2 linked regions of the Homo sapiens genome follow. The protein of the gene in region 1 purifies or fractionates together with the protein of each later gene. This does not show direct contact. Each region holds a gene or a part of one and is shown on either strand. Other genes may lie near its edges. The genes, in order: CROCC and CEP152.

Region 1 (9,440 bases):
CCAGGGAGATGGTGGCCAGGCTGTGCCGTGTACCCATCAACTTCTCTGACAGCGCCGTCTTCTCAGACTCCTTCAGAGACAAGGCCTGGGCAGAGGCAGGGGACAAAGGGCTTGGGGGATGGGCTGGTCCTGGGGGCATGCTCAGGCTTCTTGCTGCCTAGGAAATGTGCCCACTGGGGGCTTAGAGGCCTGAGTGTGCCACTGCAGGTGGACCCAGGGCAGACATGCAGCCCTGGAAAAGGGCACAACGGCAGTCACAAGAATCCCGGACGTGGATACCACTCATAGAGCTCACTAACCCGCCACAGCACCCTGACTGCAGAGTCTTTCTTTCTACCCATCTTACAGATGAGGAAACTGAGGCTCAAGGAGGTAAAGTGACTCGCCCAGGTACACAGCTGGTGAGGAGAGGAGATGGGCACAGTCTGCCCTGTCTCCGTTACATTATAGGAAAGTTAGGGATTTGTTATTTGGGGGGACACGTCAGCTGATGCCTGTGGGCATCGTGGGGACTGCTCAGAAGGCAGCCATGAGGATCCATGCCCAGCGTGGGGTGGGACGAGGCATGGGAGAATATGGAACAGCTTTCCTGGTGTCACGACTGTCACTGTCACTCAGTAAGTGCTCACTGTGTGCCAGGCATGGAGCACAGCAAAGCCTCACGAACCCCCTTCTAATCCTCCCCTCCTGCAGGTAAGGAAACTGAGGCCCCCAAGAGGGCAGTGGCCTGCCCCAGGGCTCCTAGCTGCCAAGTGGCAGAGCAGGGCCCGGCCCCAGAACTGGAGCAGCTCAGAGAGCAGCAGAGGCCATGCCAGGGCTCACGAACCTGCTGCTTCTCACTCTCTGCTAGGAGGAGGCCCTCGTCGCGCTCCTGCTGCAGGGCAGCAATCTCCTCACTCAGCTCTTCCTTCTCAGCCTCCAGCCGGGCCAGCAGCTCCTCCTGCTCACGCTGCAGCTGACTCTGCAGCTGGGCCCGCTCGGCCTCCAGCTCCCGCCATGCTGCCTCCTAGGGGGCCAGGACCGGATGCCTGTGACACACCAGGAGGGGGCCCAGGCAGACCCCCCAAAACATCAGGGCAGCAAGAGCCATCTGGCCCCCATACCCTCAGAGATGGAGGGTGACCAGGTAAATACAAGGGAGTGATAAGGGCTATGACGGGGACACGCCAGGGCCGTGAAAGTGCCAAGGAGCAGCAGTGGGCTGGCCTGGGGGTCCGAACATGGTCCCCTGCGGAGGGACAAGTAACTGTCAGCCAGGTAAGGAGAGAAAAGACCACCCCAGGCCAAGAACACAGCCCCTGGAAAGGCCTAGAGGATGCAGGGTGCAGAGGGGAACGGGACATGGTGAGTCACAGGGCCAGAGCCCCAGGCAGGGGTGGGGCCAGGACAGGCCGTGTGGGCCATGGGGATTCTAAGGACAGTGAGGGGAGTGGGAGAGAGGACTCGAGCCAAGGTGACAAGGAGCAATCTGATTTTTAGCTTAGGGGATGTTCCGACAGCTGTGGAAGAGGGATTGGGGTTGGGATGGAGGGGAGTTAGGACTGGCTGTGAGGAATGAAGGGGGTCAGGGGTTGCCAGAGGAGCTGGAGAGAACACAGATTTGGGGACATTAATGAGGCCAAGCCAGGCAATGCAAAGGGCAAGAAGAGCAAGGGGGAGGTCACAGGAGTTCAGATCCCTGGGGACTGGACAGGCGGGCAGGCAGAGCCCACAGGCAAATAGCAGCCCACCTGGGGAGCCTGAGGGCAGGTGCCTGCCTCAGCACTTGCCCCTAGCAACTCTGTGAGAAGCAGACAGAGCTGCCACTTCTTTTTTTTTTTTTTTAGACGGAGTCTTGCTCTGTCACCCAGGCTGGAGTGCAGTGGCGAGATTTTGGCTCACTGCAACCTCTGCCTCCCAGGTTGAAGCGATTCTTCTGCCTTACCCTCCCAAGTATCTGGGACTACAGGCGCGTGCCACCACGCCCAGCTAATTTTTTGTGATTTTTAGTAGAGATGGGGTTTCACTGTGTTAGCCAGGATGGTCTCGATCTTCCGACCTGGTGATCTGCCCACCTCGGCCTCCCAAAGTGCTGGATTACAGGCATGAGTCAGCACGACCGGCCAAACCGCCCCTTCTTTAAGATCTTCACCGTAGCTCATGCCTGTAATCCCAGCACTTTGGGAGGCCGAGGTGGGCAGATTACGAGGTCAAAAGTTCGAGACACCCTGACCAATATGGTGAAATCCCGTCTCTACTAAAAATGCAAAAATTAGCCAGGCGTGGTGGCGCGCCTATAATCCCAGCTACTCAGGAAGCAGAGGCAGGAGAATCGCTTGAACCCAGAAAGTGGAGGTTGCAGTGAGCCGAGATTGCGCCACTGCAATCCAGCCTAAGCAACAGAGCAAGACTCCGTCTCAAAAAAAGAAAAAAGAAAAAAAAAAAAGAGCTTTACCGCCACCTCCTGGAGAAGCGTGGTAACAACCACCCAAGGCCAGGGGTACTGCAGGGTGAGTGGCATGCCCTGGAGCCATGCAGTCATAGCCTGCACCTCTGTCAGAGGCAGCCCTGTCTAGGATTTGGTGGCTGAGGGCCCCTGTCCCGAGGGCCACTCTGGAGAGCATGTCAGTGCCAGCAATCATAACTTATGGAGCATTTGCTAAGTACCAGTCACTATGCTAAGCCCTCTATGCAGATGGTCTCAGCTCATCTTCAATACCTTTCACTATCCTATCCCTATTTCTACAGGTGGGGAAATGAAGGCACGGACACCTTGGGTAGCATCACCAGTAAGCGACCAAGATTCGATTCAAACCCAGGCAATTCAAACCCAGAGTCAGTGTTCTAGTAACTTCCCTGGCCCCTTGCCTTTCTATATGCTGAGGTCTGAGTGGCTCTTCATATGCAAACAGTACTTCTTAGCAAATGAAAGTGCTTTCCTGCTGTACATTAGGTCAGTATTTCCCAAATGTGGTTGTGGACCCTCTGCATCAGGATTACCAGGGCTGGACCAGATTTGGGACCTGGGAATCTGCATGTCTAATAAGAACCACAACCTCCCCATCCCCCCAGTCCTCCTAGCTGTCCCCAGGACCTCCACAACAGAGAGGAAGTCCCATTTCACAGATGTAGAGACCGAGGCAGAGCAAGAACGATGATGAAACACTGGCTCAGAGTCCTGCCCACCCCTCCCCAGCTGCCTGAACCTTTTCACGCTGGAGTCGCTGTAAGTCCTCCTCGTGAGCTGCCCGCTGCTCCCGCAGAGAGGCCTGGGCCTCCCGCTCAGCCTGCACCAGCTTCTGGGCCATCAGCTCCTTGTCTAGACTGGCTTTCTCCTGTGTAGCTATTATTTGCTGCCGCAGGCCCGCCAACTCCCCTGCACGAGAGGAATGGGGGAAAGGGCAGGGTTGGGTTGAAACTTTTCCTTGGGCCAGCAGACTTAGGCCAGGTGAGCCACATGGGCAAAATCCCAGAGGCAGAGGGCCTGCCTGGCATCTAGTTTGGGTCCTCTTGAAGTGGCTTGCCCTCTCTGGGCCTCAGTTTCCCTATATGCTACATGGGCCCACTGGCCCTGACCCCTTTCCTGCCTACCTAGAATGGCATTAAAGGCATAAAATGACTGATGAGAAGGCCTCCCAAATGGGACGGATGTCAAACATATAACAACCCTAGGTCAGGTGCCTTGGCTCACGCCTGTAATCCCAGCACTTTGGGAAGCTGGGGCAGGTGGATCACCTTAGGTCAGGAGTTCAAGACCAACCTGGCCAACATGGTGAAACCCTGTCTCTACTAAAAATACAACAATTAGCCAGGCGTGGTGGCAGGCGTATGTAGTCCCAGCCTCAGGGAGGCTGAGGCAGGAGAATCGCTTGAACCCAAGAGGCAGAAGTTGCAGTGAGCTGAGATTGCACCACTGCACTCCAGCCTGGGCAACAAGAGTGAGACTCTGCCTCAAAAAAACAAATAGGCCGGGCGCAGTGGCTCATGCCTGTAATCCAGCACTCTGGGAGGCTGGGTCAGGTAGGTCACCTTAGGTCAGGAGTTTGAGACCAGCCTGGCCAACACAGCGAAACCCTGTCTATACCAAAAATACAAAAATTAGCCAGGCATGGTGGCGGGCATATGTAGTCCCAGCTACTTGGGAGGCTGAGGCAGGAGAATCGCTTGAATGCAGGAGGCAGAAGTTGCAGTGAGCCGAGATCGCACCATTGCACTCCAGCCTGGGCAACAAGAGTGAGACTCTGTCTCAAAAAACAAACAGGCTGGGCGTGATGGCTCATGCCTGTAATCCCAGCAGTTTGGGAGGCCAAAGCGGGTGGATCACCTGAGGTCAAGAGTTCGAGACCAGCTTGACCAACATGGCGAAACCCCGTCTCTACTAAAAATATAAAATTAGCCAGGCATGGTGATGCATGCCTGTAATCCCAGCTACTTGGGAGGCTGAGGCAGGAGAATCGCTTGAACCCAGAAGGCAGAGGTTGAGGTGAGCCGAGATAGTGCCATTGCACTCCCGCCTGGGCAACAAGAGTGAAACTCTGTCTCAAAACAAACAAACAAAAAACAACCCTATTCCTGACTGAGCACTTACTATGGGTCAAGCGCCCAGCTAAGTATTTTAGACATAACCTCATTTTGTCTTCATAACATGCCTATGTAGTTTATCCTCATCCCCATTTAACAGATGATGAAATGGAGGCTCAGAGATCAGCAGCAACTTCCCACAGCTGCACAGCTACACATAAAGCATCTCCTTTAATGACTGACATGAACATACCCGTCAAACGTTAACTATTTATATTAATGGAAATGACTACAGGGAATGGAAATGGTATAGCTACCATCTAAAAACCATCTCCCGGGTTGGAAACCCACCAGCATTTCCCTTCCTGGTTCTGTCTGGCTCAGGTGTACATGGACAGGAAAATTAATTTCCATGACCCAAGTAGGTGCTTAGTTAATGTTAGGTGAGCAGAAAGAAGCCCTGAGTTCAGAGACTGGATGGGAACGGTGCAGGGAAGTGGGGCTGGGATTCTGGGGCCAAGAGAGTCATCTGAAAAGCACAGAGAACTCAGACTAACAGGCCTGATGACCGATGAACGGCAGTTACTGTTGACTCAGCCAGGCACCGTGCCACGGCCTTACACGCTTTTCCCACGTCATCCTGGCAACAGGCTTAGAAGGTGGGCATTGCCACCTCCAATCATCAGCTGAGGAATCTGCAGCCCAGAGAGGAAAGGGGCTTGCTCAAGGGAAGGTGAGATCTAAGTGGTGGCACAGGACTGGAACCCAGGCCAGCCAGACTCCTACTCCAGTGCTCCCAACTTCTGTGAGACCCCAGACCTTGGGAGGCTGCAGTCTGGGCTGGAACCTGGTGTTCCCCCCAAGTCCCCAGCCCCTCGTACCAGTCAGGGTCTCCTTGGCCAGCAGCAGGGCCTGCCCCTCGGCTTCCAGCTGCTCCCGGCGGGCCTCAAGCTGGGCCAGCTGCCGTTGCACCTCAAACAGGCTGCCCTCCAGGGCTTCCTTCTCCAAGCTGCAGCACATACAGTCCCTGAGGCCCTGGGACTCAGCCTCCCTGGCCCCAGGAAACTGTGGATCTCAGGGAGTGGCCAGGCATGGGCCAAGTGCCAATCTACCTGCCTGGCCAGGCCCACACTCCCTGGGGAAGCCTGAGCCACAGCTAGGACGAGTCGGCAAGCCAGACTCCTTAGTAACTGCCCCTGGGGGCCCGTGCCTGCGTGTGGCTGGTCATGGTGTGGCCCCAGGAGGACCCCCCAGGGCGGGTTGGGCAGAGCCCAAGGCCTTACCGCAGGCGTGTGGCCTCCTCTGACAGGGTCCTGCCTTCACGCTCCGCAGCCACCAGCTGCACAGCCAGGCCAGCGTGCTCCTTGGCTAGCGCCTCCTTCTCACGGGCCGCTCGCTCCAGCGCCTCCACTTGCCGCTGGGCCTCCCGCCGGGCCTGCTCCAGCTCCTGCTCCCGCCCGCTCAGCTGCCGGGAGAGCTGGCCCCCACCCAGAGACTGAGTAGCACTCCCAGCGTCCCCCAGCTTGTTCATCGTGCAGCACCCCAACTCTGGGCCTAACCCAGTCCTGGCAGAAGGCCTGGGTTTGAGCCCAGGGTCTGCCCTGATGTGCTACATGTACTTGGGCAAGTCATGACCTTCTCTAGATCTGCAATGCACGTGTGTACAAAAACCAGGGCCCAGCCAGGTACGGTGGTGCGTGCCTATAATCCCAGCACTTTGGCAGGTGGATCACTTGAGGTCAGGAGTTCAAGACCAGCCTGGCCAACGGGGTGAAACCCTGTCTCTACTAAAAATACAAAAATTAGCCGGGCGTGGTGGTGCACGCCTGTAGTCCCTGCTACTTGGGACGCTGAGGCAGGCGAACAGCTTAAACCCTGGAGGCGGAGGTTGCAGTGAGCCCAGATCGTGCCACTGCATTCCAGCCTGGGCAACAGAGCAAGACTCTGTCTGGAAAAAAAAACAACAACAAAAACAAAACAAAATGAAACAAAAAAAATGAGGGCCCTCACTCAGCTCTGGGAGTAACAGAACCCTTGTATTACTCTAAACTTGCAGAGAAGCTGAATATATAAACCAGACCCAAGTGCAGCTGCTCGGCAGGCCTCAAGGTGGAGACCTGCACCCTGCTTCCTGCACCCCCTACCCCATCCTCTAGAGGCCCCTCCCAGAAACCTAGGCGCTCCAGGATAGACCTTGCATGAAGGTCCCTGGATCCCTGAAACATTAAGGTCTCTTCCAGATGTGATGTTCCCAAAAGTCTAAGATTCCAATTCTAAAAAGTCTCCACCTATTATTAATCTGTATCATTATTATTATTATTATTATTATTATTATTATTGAGACGGAGTCTTGCTCTGTTGCCCAGGCTGGAGTGCAGTGGCATGATCTTGGCTCACTGCAACCTCTGCCTCCTGGGTTCAAGCGATTCTCCTGCCTCAGCCTCCCAAGTAGCTGGGACTACAGGCGCGTGCCACCACGCCCAGCTAATTTTTTGTAGAGATAGGGTTTCACCGTGTTAGCCAGGATGGTCTTGATCTCCGGACCTCAGGTGATCCACCCGCCTCGGCCTCCCAAAGTGCTGGGATTATAGGCGTGAGCCACTGCGCCTGGCTGGCCCCATGTTATAGATGGGGCAACTGAGGTATGGGAGATTGGGCAGCTTGTCCAAGGTCCCCAGCTAGCAGAAGTGGGGCTGGATTTAACCCAGAAGCAGGCTCCAGTGCCTGTGACTTAACCCAGGACTGGATGCAGGGGGCTGGGAGCCCGGCCTGCCCCACATGCTCTCCACACCACCCCCACACACAGCTTTGCCCACCTGCGCTAGCTGCTCCTGCAGCTGGCTGCGCTCATGGCGCAGCGTGGGGAGCTGCTGCTCCAATGCCTCCTGGGCCTGCTCCGCCACTCGTAGGGAGCCCTCCAGGCCCTGCCGCGCCACCTCCTGCTCCAACCGCAGCTCCTCTAGCCGTTCCTGCTCTTCCCGCGCCACTGTGGCCTCCTGCTCTGCCTGCCGTTGCCGGCCCTGCAGGGCGGACTTTTCTTCCTCCAGCTGGAGGCCAGGTAGGAGTGGGGCCTCGTGAGCAGGGCGTCCCTCCCAGGACCAGGACGCCTCCTCCACCCACCCACCAGCAACAATAGCCCAGGGGAGGCTCCCAGGGAATGAGGGACAGTGCCCTTGGGTGTATGGGACACTGGGGAGGGGGAGATGAGGAGGGCCCATGGAACTTCTGTGCTTTGACGCCTAGAGGGGATAGACAGACAGACAGAGAACCAGAGACAGACAGAGAACCAGGGACAGAAAGGGAGGCAGGGGCCAAGACAGGTACAGGGCTGGGCCCGGGGTGCCTCACTGAGTGGGGAGGATGGGTGGGCAAGGCAGGTGGGCCCGCAGGTGCACAGCGTACCTGGGCGACAAGGCGGTTCAGATCCAACTTGTCCTGAGCAAGGCTCTCGTTGAGGGCGCTCAGCTTGGACAGGGAGTCCTGCAGGGAGGCCTCCTCTGCCCTCAGCTTGGTCATGGAGAGCTCGAGCTCCACGCGGCCAGCCTCAGCCTGCAGGGTCAGGCCCCGAGAAATGAGGAAAGGCAGAAAGGTCGGGAGGAGGTGAGGAGGCCCAAGAAGAGACCCAGAGAGATGGACCCTCAGAGACAGGGTAGGGGAGACAAGGAGGGGACACAGTGTGAGATGGAAAAAAAAAAATCACCGCAGAAAGCCTGCTGCTTATGAGCCATTTAAAAGCCACACACCACAGAGCTGTGCAAAAATAGCTCAAGCTGCAGGGCAGGGCCAGAGTTCAGAGGATCCCCTGAGTAGGGTCTAGGGATAGCACTGCTCAGAGCCCAGGCTGCAGCGGACAGCGCAGGCCCCCCTGCCAAGGACCCTCTGCGCTGTGGCCACAACTCTCAGACCCCAGGAGCTGAGTCTCAGGCACTGGATGACCCTGAGCTATAGGCATTGCCCCCAGGAGCATCCAGAAGAGCAGGGATACGGCCATAAAGAGAGGTCAGTCCACTTATGGCTGGGACCAGAGGTCCAGAGGTCTGTGGCCTGTGACAAAGATCAGCCTGTATCCAGAAGGAAGGGGTCAGTCTGTGACCAGGCTCAGAGGTCTGCCTGACACTGGGACCAGTCTGTGCCAGAGTGACAAGGCTTGGGGCTGGGGGTCAGAGGTAGGTTTGTGGTTGTGCAGCAGACAGGGACCCACCTTGGTCAGCGCCTCGGCCACCTCGGCCTTCTCGGCCTGCAGCATGTCCCGTTGCAGTGTGGCGCGGCTCAGCGCCTCCCTCACCTCCACCAGCTCCTTGGCCAGGACTGAGCGCTTCCCTTCCAGCTGCTCTAGTTGTCTATGGCTGTGGGACAAAGGGTGGGTGGGTGGCCCATGTCACTTTCCTGCCCCGAACCTCCTGTAGCCAGCGAGATGCTGGGCTGGGGACCAGGCCTGAGGCAGGAGTTTGGAGAGAAACAGCCTGAGCCACAGGGCAACCAAGCCCACTACCGCTTAGCTCCATGACCCTGGGCCTCCGTTTTCACATCTGCAAAATGAGGTAACACTTACCTCGTGACATTGTTTGTTTTTTTGAGACACAGTCTTGCTCTGTCACACAGGCTGGAGTACAGTGGTGCGATCCTGGCTGACTGCAACCTCTGCCTCCCAGGTTCAAGCAATTCTCCTGCCTCAGCCTCCCGAGTAGCTGGGATTACAGGTGCTCACCACCACGCCTGACTAATTTTTGTAGTTTTAGTAGAGACGGGATTTCTCCACGTTGGTCAGGCTGGTCTGGAACTCCTGACCTCAGGCGATCTGCCTGCCTTGGCCTCTCAAAGTGCTGGGATTACAGGCGTGAGCCACTGCGCCCGGCCTGTTTTAAGGATACAAACTTCACATGTGCTTAAAATAGTGCCTGACACATCTCCCCAAGGACCTTCAGAAACAAGAATAACAT
Region 2 (15,729 bases), on another chromosome or scaffold:
GCCTGCAGATCCAACCACATCAAGTCTCCACACAATGTTGTTAAATACCTTATGTGCTTAGGTTTACTTATCTATAACCACCTTAGTGGAATATTTTCTAAAAAATTAGATATGAAAGATTAATAATTAAACTGTGATTCATTCAGATGTAAAAAGCACCCTCTTTAACCTTGGGCATCTTAATGCTTAGACTAATCTCAAAGGAGCAAATATTTTGTAAACCGAAAGAATATACAGAAAAACCGAGGGGTGGCAGCTTTATGACAGAAATATTATGAAGAAAAATTTAGGAACATGACAGGTTTTCTATCCTAGAAATGCACAAAATCTTAAAAGTATAAAGTTATGAACGAGTTCAATGATAGCATTGTATGGGTTTTCATTAAGAGACAGGCAGTTCCAATAAATTTACTAGAATAAATCTGCCTTTTACCTGTTTGGTAATATTTTCACAATGTTTGAGTTCCAATTCAATTTCGAGTTTCTTCATAGCCCCCTTGATGGCTATGTCCTTCTCTTGTTCTAAGTTTTGCTGGATTGTGCACTTCTGCTCTTCTATCATAATTGCCATCTCTTTCTTGGAAATAACATCACTGGTGGTTACTTGGTCAGTTTGGCTGCCACAATCTAAGGTCTTCTTTTTCATTGCCTTTATAGTTTGATCCAGCTTAGACTGCCACTCCTTTTCAAGCTGTTGAATGAGTTTTTCTTTGATCTGTTTTCAGAAGAAAAATCATACGAGAAGAACAATTTTCAAATAAGTAAAAACTAGAATTAAAAGCTAGCCAGAAAAGCAACCACAGCTGTGTTTGAAAACCATCTAGATATTGTTGTAGTAATTATAAAAGGTTTAGAAATTTAGTCAATTAAAATACACTCTCAAGTAAAACTTGAAAGTTACTCTTTGAACTTAACTATATGACAAAAATCACATGAAAGATTTAAGTATGTTGTGTAAAGTCAGGATATCTTGCTCTTAATATCCAACCTTCTGGAATCTTTCCTATTGCCACTACAAAGATGGCAGGATTTAAAAAAAAAAAAATTACAGTTAATGTGTTTTGCCATCAACACCATGCTCTCCACAAAGGACCGAGTAAATCTAATTAACGAACCAAAACCTGAACAATCTAAAAAATAGTTTTACTCACTTGAACACATTAGAATCTTATTTGTTATAGTGTTAAATTTTACTAAGTAGACTACATTCAAAAGGGAGGCAGTATTATTGGAAGAACATCTTAATGATTTTTCCACTTTAACAGTACAGTGAGGTGGAGCTAAACACAGTCTTAGGCAAAACTATGAAACTGCACAATTTGGTTTTCCCTTTTTCTGTTCACCACCTGGGTATCTGAAGTTCTCCTACTGTTTCCCTGGCTACCAGATCAATAGCAATTAATAGCCATTTTGTAGATAAAAGAATCTAGTTGAGGCCAGGTGCAGTGGCTCATGCCTGTAATCCCAGCACTTTGGGAGGCTGAGGCAGGCGGATCACCTGAGGTCAGGAGTTCAAGACCAGCCTGGCCAACATGGCGAAACCCCATCTCTACTAAAAATATAAAAATTAGCTGGGTGTGGTGGCGCTTGCCTGTAATCCCAGCTACTCAGGAGGCTGAGGCAGGAGAATCACTTGAACTCGGGAGGTGGAGGTTGCAGTGAGCCGAGATCACACCACTGCACTCCAGCCTGGAGACAGAGCGAGGCTCCGTCTCAAAAAAGGAAAAAAAAAATTTAGTTTAAATAAGCTTGAGAATTCTTTTTTGTTTTCATTTCTAAATAAGCTTTTAGGATCATACTTTGTTCCCTAACTTGCTAGGGAACTATTAGCATTTCCTAATCTCATTTGCTATTTAAGTAATAGAGGTAACAAATTATGGGCTTCTGAGACTGCCCATTACTTCTTTGTTTCTAATCCATGATATGGCTTATTTGTTAGTTATAAATATTAGTCTAGAGTTATAATCATTCCACAATATGAAATCAGATCATGGTTTCATTTTGAGGAATCAAAGAAGTGCCCAAAAAACTTGTTATATCCTGAGTTGGGTCGAAAAGTCAAGAGGTGGCTAAATTCCTAAAAATAAAACTGGTGTGGTAACTGCTAATAGCTCAATTCCAAAAGGTAAAATGGATGATTATGTAAGTGCCTGGCAAATAAAAATTACGTATCTGGTTCAAGAAGAATTGTCTTCTAAAGTTAGTACCACATTTTAAAAATGTGGTGACCAGAAAGAAATTTTAATCCACACCTCTTGCTCTTCCTTATCCCAATGTGCTTTGGCTAAGATCACTTCACTTTCAACTTGCTGTTTAATATCAGTTTCTTGATCTTTCAGCCACTTGCTCTTTTCCATCATAAGTGTATCTTGGTACTTTTTTTCAAGTTCCACCTGCAGTTTGCTTACATATTCTTCTCTTTCCTCCAATAGCTGTCTCTTTAAACAAAATTCAAATAAACATCTCTCTACAACACTAACAGTCTCCAAGTTAAAACATGAACTTGTTGTGCGTGTCTTGGATAGCAAAAAAAATCCCTCTAACTTCTAAAATGCACCTACCTAACTCATATTACAATTGTATAAATAAGCCTTAATGTGCATAGAAATGGCATCAGGAATGGGAATGTTGACCATCTTTGCCTTGTCTGCAAATTCATAGGCTTCACTGATTACTACCCAACCTGAAGGATTCCGTGTATATGATTTTTTCCCCCTTTCTCTCAATGAGCCAGGTTAACATGTGAGGAAAGTTCTGTGTGCTACTAAAAGCTTTAAAACTTGGAATTGAGCTCCTATTTAACCTGCAACCTGACTCAGCAAGTGTTTCAGAAAACAATGCATGAAACATAAAAAAACACCCTTTAACTCTTATTGTTACCTGACTCATATATTCTGTATCCAGGTTAAATTCCCTACCTAAAGCTAAGCTGCAGTAAAATGGCTTATGTCCTGCATGGAAGAGCTACCCCAGAAGTGCCCTCACTTGTTCTAGAGTTTAGTAACATTCTCCCATGTATGTGAAACATTTCCTTTAAAAAAAAAAAAAAGGTGTATTTTTGCCTACCTCTGAAAAATGTGAGAAGATTAGACAGTCTCCTAAATATAAAGATGTTTCAGTTCTGACTGGCTTATACTACTAAGGGCTTATATAATTCTATAGTAAAAAACTAATGAATTCCCAGAGAGGGAAGAAATTAAACTTCTAATGCTTTAAGTACACTGGCCCTTTAAGTGAGGGGTGGGTTTGGAGGAGGAGTGTAACCACAAAAAGATAGCAAAAGGGAGCGTTTTAGGGTGATAAAACTGTTCTGTATCCTGACAAAACTATAAACGTGTTAAAGGTTTATAGAACTATACGCCCAGTGGTGGGAGGAAGTCAATTTTACTGTATAACAATTAAAATTTTTTTTTAATTATACTTTAAGTTTTGGGATACACGTGAAAAATTTAACCTCTAAGTTTGGTTTTTTTTTGAAGGATCAAATAGCAGTTTAACTTTTCTTCTTGGACTTGTGTACAAACACTCATGAGCCAAAATATCAGTCAATAGCAGATACTAATTGTAACTGACCCATTATATGAGATCATATTTTATAGTCAAATTGATTCTATTAAAAGTATCAGAAAATATTCCTGGAATGACCTCTTTGAGAAAATTCCTCTTATGTTCTTGCCAATTTTTTTTTTTTTTTTTTTTTTTTTTTTTTTTTGAGAGACGGAGTTTCGCTCTGTCGCCCAGGCTGGAGTGCAGTGGCGCAATCTCGACTCACTGCAAGCTCCGCCTCCCGGGTTCACGCCATTCTCCTGCCTCAGCCTCCCGTGTAGCTGGGACTACAGGCGCGCACAACCATGCCCGGCTAATTTTTGTATTTTTAGTAGAGACGGGGTTTCACCGTGTTAGCCAGGATGGTCTCGATCTCCTGACCTCGTGATCCGCCCGTCTCGGCCTCCCAAAGTGCTGGGATTACAGGCGTGAGCCACTGTGCCCGGCCGCCAATTTTTATACATATAAAAGAATCACACTAGTGATTTCCCTATTTTAATTTTTAAAACATTACTGAAAGCTAAGTCCTCAATTTCAAGGTAATATAAGATCCTTTCTCACTTTTATACTGCCATCCCTACCTAAAACAGCTCCCTTTAGAAGTTCTTTTTCCACTAGATGATATGTATACATGGCACATTTTTCACCATATTAATCTATTCAACAATAATCAAGATATTGAATGAACTGAATTCCTCGCCTGCTCTTTACTATTCTTTTTAAGTGTGTGGTAGTAATAGCTTGCTTTAACATAACTTATTCAAAAACCTCTGTATAGAACATTTATTTAAGCATTTAAAAATATTTTCTAATCTTGAGGCAGATAGCTTTCAAACTGTGGTTTGCCGCTGGTCCAAAGTGTGAAGGACAGTCAGGCCTGTTAAGGCACTGGGCCAGGACAGGGAAGAAAAGAGGAGGTGTGACTGTTTACATGTGATTTTACTCCTGGACACTCACCAAGAGTGACTCAGAAGAATCAGGCAGAGTTGGAGAATCTACTCTAGCCCCTCCAGCTTCCCTGAAGGAGGTCATACGAAGATGCTGACCTTGCTGTCCATATCCTCCATATCATCACTTTCCCTATCACGAGACCAACATTCAAATTCCTACTCTTCTCCCCAGAAGAATAAAATGACAATGAGGTAGTGAGAAAGAAATGGATCCGAGAAAAAGGGCTCTGAACGAATGCTCCGTGCAGCGCTCACAGGACTACATAGGGTTTCCTGAACAGTCAACACCGAAAATGAGGATCTGTGATTTTCAGATTTAAAGTGACACTGATCCTTTTTTTTTTTTTGCCCTTTAGAATAAATCTGCAAGAAAAAAAAAATCACTTTCTCCTATCTATATGCCATTGTACATTAAGGTTTTAATAATCATTTCAGTAATTACTGTATTTTATTTGTGAGCTATATGAGTGTGATACAGCCAAAAGTAAAGAGAACATATGAATACCTTCTCCATTCACTTCTCTAGAACAAATGTATTCGTTTAAATGATAATACTGAGGCTTGAAGAGTGAAAGGATGTCGATACAACATAAACTTGTACTGTACCTTCTCCTGAGTCTGTTGCTCCTTTTCAGTGGTCTTCCTGAGAGTCAATTCTAGATTATCCTTCTCTCTGCACACTTCTAGGTAACATTCCTGCACAGCAGTCACCTCCTTATTCAACTTATCCAACTCAGACCTTGGATACACAAAACCAGCAACTAAATGATTTAACCACAAAAAAATACAAGAGCTGCATAACAAACAATTTTCCTCTAAATTATGGAATAGGGGAATGTAGTCTCTACAGCTTAAAAGGCAGCTAAACTCTTTATTCTCACCTCAGTTGCAAATGAGTTCTCTCATAAGCCTCAAAGAGCTGCTGCTTCTCCAAAGCATGCTTTGCTAATAGGCTTTCACGTATTTGAGTTTTCATGGCTTCATGGTGCTGCTGATAAGTCCTTTCACACCTGGAAACAGAGCGGAATCAAAGGCAATGCCCAGTCTCACTACGAACACCAAAATGAATTGGTTTCCTTCCTTCCTCCTCACCTCTTCCCTCTAATGCAAATTATAATTGAGGTCAGATAACTTTTCCCCAACTGAAAGTGGTAATAATTAATTAATAACCAACAATCTTATGAGAATCTTCAAAATTTTCTTTCTTCAAATGTTTCTAGAGAACAATTAGAAACTTGGATGTGAGACTGCCCCAGTCCTTCAAATAGAGATAGTAATCTATGTTGAGGACTTCTGTTTATAAAAAATTAATGGCAATAATTGAGGGTGTGGCTCCAAAATTTCAAGTCATCTATATTAAACACAAATACTAGCAGTCCCCAACTCACAAGTAAGTTATGTTCCAGAAGTCTGTTTCCAAGTTTATGATTTGGTATTTGGAAGACATATTCCCTCTCACAGACTTTTTTCTTTATAAAGAATAGTTTCCCAGACGAGTCTTTAAAAAAATATTAACCTATAATATTTCAGTGAACTACAGTTTCAATGATACTATAGAACCCAACCCACTACATAACACTGTTTCTATGGAAAATGTGTTCCAAATTCTAATTTGAGAAGCCAGGGACTCATCTCTGCCAATCCAAGATCTCAACAGGGTAGAAATCACTCAATCATTTTGAATCTTTTTGTCACAGGGAAGGGCAGGGACTTAGAGGGGAAGGGTACCCAGGAGACAGTCGTCAGGCATCTATATAGACCTTACCTATCCACAGCTTCTTGTTTGTCATGGTCAAAATCTTGTACCATTTGTCTCATTTGATTACATAAGTCTTGATTTGTATTTCTCAGTTTTCCTTCAGTTTCTTTAAGTTCCTAGACACAAAAGAATAAACTTAGTACTTACAGAAAATAAACATCATTTTCACTGATTGATTTTGTCTTATTTTTTAATATTTTCTATGCTTTCTCTCTCCCCTATAACAATATTTGACATATTATTTTTACAATTCTGCAAAAGAAAAAGTCTCTTCACGCTTTGATAAGAACATAGATTCATTTATTTGACAAGTAGTTTTCTGACAGGACTAAACGTTTAAATTTTGTATTTACTTTGAAATATATAAAATGAAAATATTTAACCAGAGAAGTATTGGCTAGCTGATGCCTTAAAATAAGTCTCAGAATTCAATAATCTTCAGCAACCATCTAAATAAGCAAAGTTTTACTTCTGGGTCAAGAGCTGGCTAAGGAGGAAAGAATACCTCTGTCAGCCATGCTACCATAGAGAAAGAGAACTGGAACTACACTAACTTACCTTCCAATGAAACTACTAACCAACAGTTCACTAGCAAAGGGAAGTAACTGGAACTCATAATCACCTGCTAATATACTTGTCTACTAACTCACATTGCCTCTTTATTTGCAAAAACTCTATTATATCCTTTGTATTTAATGAGGAAATAAAAATTCTCATAAAATATAAAAAATATTTTTAATCACCTGATTTTGTTGTTGTAAAACTTGAATTTCATTTTTAAGCAGCAGAATATCATCTCTGACAACATCAGAAGTAGAAGACTCAGGCCATAATTGATTCTTTGGTTTTTCTGAGGTATCTGTTTTAGTCTGAATATTAAAAGGTCAAAAGTTTTACAAGTTTTAAAAAATTCTAAGTTTCACTTTGAAATACTTCCATACTTTAAAAAAATTGCAAACAGTACAAATAATCTCCATATAGCTTTTACTCATCTTCCCCCAATATAACTACAGCACAATCATCAAAACTAGTAAATTAACACAGATGCAATACTATCAAGTAATCTACAGACCTTATACAAATGTCTCCAATTTGCCCCAAATGTCTGTTTTCTGGTCCAAGATCAAATCCATGATTCTGAGTGGCATTTAGTTGTCATGTTTCATTAGTCTCCTCCAATCTAGGACAGCTCTTCAGTCTTTCAAACCCATGATGTTTTCTAAGAATACTAACCCGTTATTTTGTGGGATGTTCCTCAATTTGGAGTTTTTAGGTTTATTAAAATCAGGTTATGCATCTTTGGCATGCATGTCAAGAACTGATATGTGCTCTTTGCAGGAGACACATGATATCACTATGTCTCACCACTGGTAATAATCAATTGAAGGTGGGATCTGTCATCTCCATTGTAAACTTACTATTTTTTGTTTTATAATAAATGATAAGTATCTTATAGGATACTTTGAGACAATACAAATATCCTATTTCTCATCATATGTTCTCCTACTAAGATCAAGCATTTATTCTATTTCTGTATGTATTCATTTATGTCAGCATTCACTCACGGACATATATTTTATTCAATACATACAATTTTTAAGACTCATGATAGACTTTGGCGAATTGCCTTCCAGAAATGTCATCCAAATGTATACTGTCAGGTAGTACATGGGTCTGCCCATCTCTCTTTGCCTCCAATGGCAGTGATTATCTTTAAATAATTATCTTTGATGGGAAAAGAATATCTAACAATTGCTTTCATTTGTATTTCTTGTGTCACCACCAAAGTGGAACCTCTTATATACCTTCATTGTTCATTTGTTTTTCCACCTTCCCAGATTTATCTGTTCATTTAACTTTGCATATTTTCCTCTGAGAGTTTTCCTTATCTACTTTTCTTTTTATTCATTGATGGGGGTTACAAAGATTTTAAAAATATATCTACTCCGTTTCACTTGTTGTGTACCTGGACTCTGAGCTCTTTGCCACAACACAGTGGCTCATCCTTGTAATCCGAGCACTTTGGGAGGTGGAGGTGGGCAGATCACTTGAGTCCACAGCTGAAGTAACTTTGAGAAAAATTGGAGTTTAGATGTACACTACCGAGAATTCACTATGGCAATAGAGTAGCTGGACAAAAAGAATACTCAAAGATGAGATAGTTATTCCTTTGATCTATTGATCAACCAGACTACAGAGGAAAATGGGAAGGCTAAAAAACAGTACAATGCATGACCACTATCTACTGCTACACATGATAAAGTGTATCTGTATAGCAAATGCCATTAGCAAGTTTAATACAGAACAAAGAAAGCACCAAGATATCTGAGCTAAGGTTCAGACTCAAAATCAGGTTTCTAGTATCCTAAATCCTAGAGCACTCCCACCAAAATGCTTAAACTAATAAACTCTAATGTCTTAATGCAAATTGAGAAACAAGCTTTCATTCCCATCCTTTTAAAGAAATGTAGGGCAACAATGAAAACAGCTTGATTTAAAGATGTTAAATGTGCAGGGGGCAGGGCGGGGAGGAGTCTCTCTCATTTGCTGTTAATATTAAAATCTATGTTTTAGTCATCAAATGTAGTTACTCAGAAGAGGGAATCAGGCTGGAAAAGATTTTGATAGCAAAAACACTGTTTTTCCAAAATATAAAAATTAACCACAATCAAAATTCCACAATAATTAGCACAGAATATTATACATACTTTAGCAGAACTGTTCTAATGAACACAACTCCTAGTTTAAATAGGAGATAAAACAGTACTAAAGAAGGAAGTAAACAATTATCTCCACCCAGGAGGAAAAGGAGTATACTACCCACATTCCTTTTCCCTCTTCTTTTGCTTTTCTTAGTTATTAGGTGTTTTATATATTATTTTCTATTGGGAGTATAGATGGCTGATGATTTGTGAAATATGGAAGGGTAAAAAAAAGGATCTATAAAGGAGAGCAGCCCTAAAGATCTCTGTGATAGCATGATCTTACAGAAATATCTTTGACTTACTTATTAGTCATGTGTTTAGTTTCAATTTGTCTGAAATTGGCTCTGTAAATTCAAAAGTGTCACAAAGTGCTCCAGCTTCATTTTCCGAACTGAAGAATACAGAGGTGGATTTCAATGACTGACAAAACCAGATTTTGTGTACTTTCCCATAGTACCACGACCACTATATAATATCTGTACCATCATCACTATATAATTAATGTCCTCATATAGAATGACTTTTGTTGTAAGAACATGGGCCAGGAAAATCTCATAGAAAATACTACAGGATTTCTATGGAGGATTTATTTTAACTAGATTTTAGAGCACTATTGGTAAAAGCCAATCTTAAAGAAATGCAGATTCCTTGTTACAGAGAATACTTCCTTGTATTTATGGTAAAGGAATTTTACCTAATTGGTATCTCATTTACTAGGTGCCAAGAGTAACCAGAAAAAACATACAGATGCTTTTCAACTTACAATGGGTTTATCACCTAATAAAATCATTATAAGTTGAAAATATCATTAAGTCAAAAATGCATTTAATGCATCTAACCTATTAAAACCATAGCTTAGCCTGGCCTACCTTAAATGTGCTCAGAACACTTATAATAGCCAACAGTTATGCAAAGTCATCTAATGCAAAGCTTCATTTATAATAAACTGTTGAATATCTCATGAAATTTATTGAACACTGTACTGAAAGTAAAAAACAGAACTGTTTTACAGGTACTTGAAATATGGTTTCTACTGAATGCACATAACTTTTCCACCACTGTAAAGTCTAAAAATTGTAAGTCAAACCATCCTAAGTCAGGGACTGTCAGTATCCCTTTAAAAATGGCATTTCCTTCTTTAAACTTTATTTCTAAAAATGTCAAATAAACTCCTGAAAGCCAAAGGTTTATTAATTTAAAAACATGTAAAAGGGCTGGATGTGGTTAGTCACACCTGTAATCCAACACCTTGAGAGATTGAGGTGGGAGGATTGCTTGAGCCCAGGAGTTTGAGACCAGCCTGGGCAACATTGTGGGAACCTGTCTCTACAAAAAATTTAAAAATTAGCCAGGCATAGTGGCGTGCGCCTGTGGTCCCAGCTACTCAGGAGGCTGAGGTGGGAGCATCGCTTTAGCCTGGGAGGTTGAGGCTACAGGGAGCCATGTTTCCACCACTGCCCTCCAGCCTGGAAGACAGAGTGACGCCCTGTCTCAAAAAAAAAAAAGTGTAAAAGTTTTCTTTATTGAGCCTTTTAAAAATGGTTTTTTAACTCTATAGGCTTTACATACCTCAACCTCAATGCTTTTTTCATCCTTCTTCACTTGGTGGAGATCTTCAATTTTCTTATGACAGTCTTTGAGGTCATTTTGTAACTGAGACACCAGATGACGCTTCATTGAGTTGCTACCCAGCAAACGCTGTACTTCTGCCTTTAACTTCAGAATGAACTCATCTTTTGAAAGCTCTTCATTTGGGTCTTCTTCTTGTACAATGCTAATGGAGAAATTGTGATTTTTAACATTAAATCAAGTAATAAATCAGACATGGTTATTCCCTAAAAGCACTGACCACAGTGGTGAACATGTTTTGTCACCTATACAATTATATACTAGTATTTCAAAACAATTTTAAATGTTGTCATACACAAGGATTATCACCTTTGCCATGTCTCTATATACAGAAATACGTTTATTCACAGGAAGAGCCTTCTCAAGCTTAGTCCTGCTGCTCACTGTAAGTAGCTTAGAAATGTGAACTTTGACATAATTTACATTTGTGTTATTGGAAAACTGCATGCTGTATATACATGCCCTTTATGACTCTAACAGAAACAACATAAATATTAAGGAAGAAAAGAATACTAAACACTAGCCATCCTAACCAACAATTTCTGTTATTTTTTTCAACTTACTAAAACACAAGTCTGGGTGAATATCTGAGTAACTAGAAAAACACAAAAATAAAACCATGCTAATTTAAACCCAATTTTAGTTTCAATAAATTTAAAGATTGAGAGATTATCTGCTTCCTTGCCGTAATGAATTAACAAGACTAACCTTTATCTTCCTCCTTAAAAAACTAGCAAACCAAATAAAGCAAATAAAATAATAGTTTTCAATCACTAGACAACAGGCAGCACAGGCCAGGGATTCCTGAGAAAAGGAAAGCAAACAAGGTGAGCTCTAAGATTACCCCAGCTTTCTGCCTGGAGAGTGTCCAGGCCATAGCACAGGGAGGTGAAACCCAAACAGAGCCCAGTAATCTCACTGAGTTTCAGAGAAAGAATTCAGAATTTGGGGAGTCCAGAGTGGCTAGAATATGAAGGGAAGAAATACTGGGGAAAAAGAAGCTGCACAGAAAAAGAGCTCTGGAGATCTGTTCTGTATGAGTGGCTAGGGAAAAAAACATAGGAAATGAATAAGGCTGGGAATATGTTATGTTTCAATGAGCCATAATGCAAAGACTTCCTAATTTAAAGGGCATCAAATAATACCTTAGTAGTGGGGCAAAATTAGCCCCAGATTAAAGCCTTTTCTAAACCTGATGTAGTAAAGCCTATAAAGAAAGCCTTGAAAGGATCAAACTGATTCCAAGTAACTTGTGTGTCACAGAAAAAGTACAACAGTATTTTTAAAAATACAGTAATATCTGGCATCCAAAACAAAATTCAAAATGTCTAGCATTCAATCAAAATTTATCAGGCATAGAAAGAAGTAGGAAAAAAATATGAACCATACCAGGAGAAAAACCAATCAATAGAAACTAACCCATCAATGACACAGACAATAGAATTAATATATTTCATATGTTCTAGAAGGTTAAGGAAGATATGAATATGTGGAGGAAAATGGAAGATACAGAAAAGACTCAAATTAAACTTATAGAAAAAATTATAATATCTGAAATGTAAAATATACTGGATGGGGTTAATAGCATATTTAAAACTGCAGAAGAAAAGATCAGTGAACACATAGATATAGAAATAAAACTATATAATTAAAAACAAAGATAAAAAAGACTAAAACAGAAATACACAGAACATATTACATTTTCCAACATGTGTAACTGAACTCCCAGAAGAGGAGAGGGATGGAAAACATATTTGAAAAAATAATGGCCAAATTTTTCCTAATTTGATGAAAATGAAAACCCCACAAAACCCAGAAGTTTGGTGAATCTCAAGCAGAATAAACACAAAGAAAACCAGCATACATCACACCAATGTCAGATTGCTGAAACCCAGTGATAAAAAGAGAGTGTAGGAAGACTCCCGGAGAGAAAAGAACCAGAGAAAGGAATCCTGAATTCTGTGTATAAATTTGTACAAGCCTCAGTCTAAGCCCTGAACTATGCATGTACAGGGCAACCCTCAAACCAGCATATCAAAGATTTTAAAAACTTAACTGAAATTTAAACCACACATTCAAGTCTCACAATGACTAAACCCGAAGGGATGCATACACAGGTTGGATTCAAAGCAATGTGGCAAAGGCTTGGAGAACCAAACAGATTTAAAACACTCATACAAATTCACAATGTCTAGTATATAATCTAAAATTACTTGACATGCAACTAACCAGAAAAATGTGGCCAAATCTTAAAAGACAATCAACAAATGATCCAAATGCTGGAACTGTCACTAAAAGAGTTTTATAAGTTTAAAGTAGCTATTATATCTCTGCTTTATGAAGTAAAGAAAAAGATACTTGAAGTGAATGAAAAAAAACAGGAATTCTTAACAGAGAAAGAAAAGTGATACAAGAACAAAATAGAAATGTTATTAAGTAAACAAAAGTTAAAATAAAAACACACAAAACCTTCACTAGATAGGCTCAATAGAGTATAGAGGACAAGAAAAAAAGGAGTGAACTTGAAAATAGTCCAGTAGCAATTATGCAAAATAAAAAGGGAAAAACTATAGAAAAAAATGAACAGAGCCTCAAGAAACTGTAGTATAATATCAAAAAATCTAACATACATGTAACTGGAGACCCAAAAGGAGAGAACAAAGACACAGAGACAGAAAAGGTATTTAAGGAAATTAATGGCTGACATTTTCACAAATTTGGTAAAAGACATAATAAATTTATATATTCAAGAAGCTCAGAGAACCCAAAATGAGATAAACTAAAGAAAAACACACTTAAACATATCATAATCAAAGTACCAAAAACTAAATATAAAGAAAAAAATTCTTAAAGCAGCAAAAGAAAAACCTATACATTACTGACAGAAACACTAATTCAAATAACAATGAATTTCTTCACAGAAACCATTGAGTCCAGAGAGAGTGGACCAACATAGCTTTAATGTGCTGAAATAGAAGAACAATTGGTCAGGAATTGTATAATAAACAAATATAAGGATATTTTCATAAAAGGAAACAGACTCTGTCAGCAGCAGACATGCTTGAGAAGAAATGGTAAAGAAAATTCACAGAAGATCATATTATACGATTCTATTTATATGAAATGCACAGAGCTGTCAAATCCATAGAGACAGGAAGTAGATTAGTAGATTAGTTGTCTGGAGCTGTGGAGGCAGGAAGAGGTAATGGGAATGACTGGTAATAGGCATGGAGTTTCTTTGGGGGGATGTTGAAATGCTGTAAAATTAGGTGTGGTGATGACTGCACAGTTCTGTGAATATACGGAAAACCACTGAGCTGTATTCTTTAAGTGGGTGTCTTTTATGGTATGTGAAATAATATCTCAATAAAACAGTAAAAAAAAAAAGAAAAGAAAACCCAAACACCTAACGTATGAGTTTCCTTCATATGAAGGCAAATCTAATAATCTGTAGTGCTTAGGTGTGAATAACTGGGTATTAAAAAGCTAAGGGAAAAAAAAAACAGAAAATGATTGCCCTAATAGATAAGATAGTAGTTAGCCTCAAGGTTACAATAAGAAAGAATATGGGCAGCTCGTGGCAATATTTACTTCTTGACCTGGGTGGTGGTCCTACGAATATTCACTTTCAAATAATTCATTAAGCTATATATTTATGTTCCATGTTTTTTATATGGTATATTTCATAATTTGAAAGATTTAAAAAGCAAAATAAAACTATAGAAAGTACTAGAGAAATACCTTATTTTTAAATATCAAGAAACCATAAATGAAAACAGTGACAGATCTAACTATATAAAAATTATAAACAGGAAAAGTGATAACTCTCAATACTGGCTAGGTTACCAAGAAATAGGGACAGCCTCAGGACGTGGGTAATAATGTAAACTTTAGGGCTGTTTAGTAATATGCATCAAAGCCCTCAAATAAGTGCACACCCTCTAGCAAGACAATTATTCTACTTCTTTAGGAAGTAATCAAAGATGTGAATAAAGACTTGACTACAAGGATGCTTATAACAATGATATTGCATTATTTATAAGTAAAACTTTTAAACAGCGATTTAGTAGCTAAACTGGTTCATTCATCTACATAGTCACTAAAAGTAATCTATAAAAATATTCACTAATATTCAAAGATTTCAGAATATACTAGTAAAATGACATTATAAAGAAATATTATCAATATTATTTTATCTTTTAGAAACATACAAAACAGGTGATGTGGAAGTTTTATACTGAAATATAAAAGTGGTTTTCTTCATGGGAAGTAAGGTGAGATTATTGGTGACTTCTATTTTCTTCTTTTTTAGTCTGTATTTTCTAATTTTTTCATAATGGAGGATTAAGTTACTTTTGAAAAGAAATAAACAGTTGACAGTATCTGCCCTTAAGATGAGGTGATGAAAGTCTCTGTGGTCTTTCTCCACAAAACCCATGAGAAAAACGTAATCATAAGAAAAACGTCATATTCCAATAGACAAGCTTCCTACAAAATACTTGGCCAGTATTCCTTACGACTGTCAAGGTCATCAAAAACAAGTAAAGTCAAGAGAAATCTAAGGAAACATGACCCCTAAATGTAATGGGGTAGCCTGGTTGGGATCCCAGAACAGAAAAAGTATGTTAAATAAAAACCAAGGGCATGTAAATAAACCCTGGATGTTAATTAATAATAATATACCAATATTGGCTCATTAATTGTAACAAATGTACCATACTAACATAAGGTATTAGTAGGGAAAAATGGGTGCAGCATATCGTATATAGGAACTCTGCGTAATACAAATTTTTCTGTAAATTAAAAACTGTTCCAAAAATATATTTTTAAAAAACCTTTATTAGAAACAAAAATACTACCTGAGTTAAAATGTTTACTGTTCTTCAGTTTTAGATGATTCCAAATAAAATCTTAGAATATTGTGTGTGTGTGTGTGTGTGTGTGTGTGTGTCTGTGTGTATGGGTGTGCGAGACAGAGAAAATGAACAAACTATTAGGTAGGCTTTTTAATGTTATAAAAGGAGCTTTTGCAATACAAAATGCAAATTTGTATATGTAATATATATATATATTTTGTAAGTAGTCTGTCTATATACATAGATCTCATTTAAACCACTTCTATTTCCATTGAAGTAGAAAA

What was found.
Region 2: the proteins of CROCC (region 1) and CEP152 purify together in Homo sapiens (co-immunoprecipitation; 2 studies listed by IntAct). This does not show direct contact.

The regions. Positions count from the first base shown.
Region 1 is NC_000001.11:16,944,868-16,954,307, reverse strand, and holds part of CROCC (rootletin), read right to left. Parts: intron 8,847-9,440; coding exon 8,702-8,846; intron 8,050-8,701; coding exon 7,903-8,049; intron 7,548-7,902; coding exon 7,317-7,547; intron 5,978-7,316; coding exon 5,784-5,977; intron 5,510-5,783; coding exon 5,382-5,509; intron 3,356-5,381; coding exon 3,186-3,355; intron 1,007-3,185; coding exon 827-1,006; intron 86-826; coding exon 1-85. UniProt on the Homo sapiens protein: Major structural component of the ciliary rootlet, a cytoskeletal-like structure in ciliated cells which originates from the basal body at the proximal end of a cilium and extends proximally toward the cell nucleus.
Region 2 is NC_000015.10:48,761,958-48,777,686, forward strand, and holds part of CEP152 (centrosomal protein of 152 kDa), read right to left. Parts: intron 10,735-15,729; coding exon 10,530-10,734; intron 9,333-10,529; exon of another isoform or gene 9,263-9,332; intron 8,216-9,262; exon of another isoform or gene 7,328-8,215; intron 7,125-7,327; coding exon 6,999-7,124; intron 6,372-6,998; coding exon 6,262-6,371; intron 5,507-6,261; coding exon 5,378-5,506; intron 5,236-5,377; coding exon 5,103-5,235; intron 2,439-5,102; coding exon of another isoform or gene 2,214-2,438; exon of another isoform or gene 1,928-2,213; intron 716-1,927; coding exon 434-715; intron 1-433. UniProt on the Homo sapiens protein: Necessary for centrosome duplication; the function also seems to involve CEP63, CDK5RAP2 and WDR62 through a stepwise assembled complex at the centrosome that recruits CDK2 required for centriole duplication.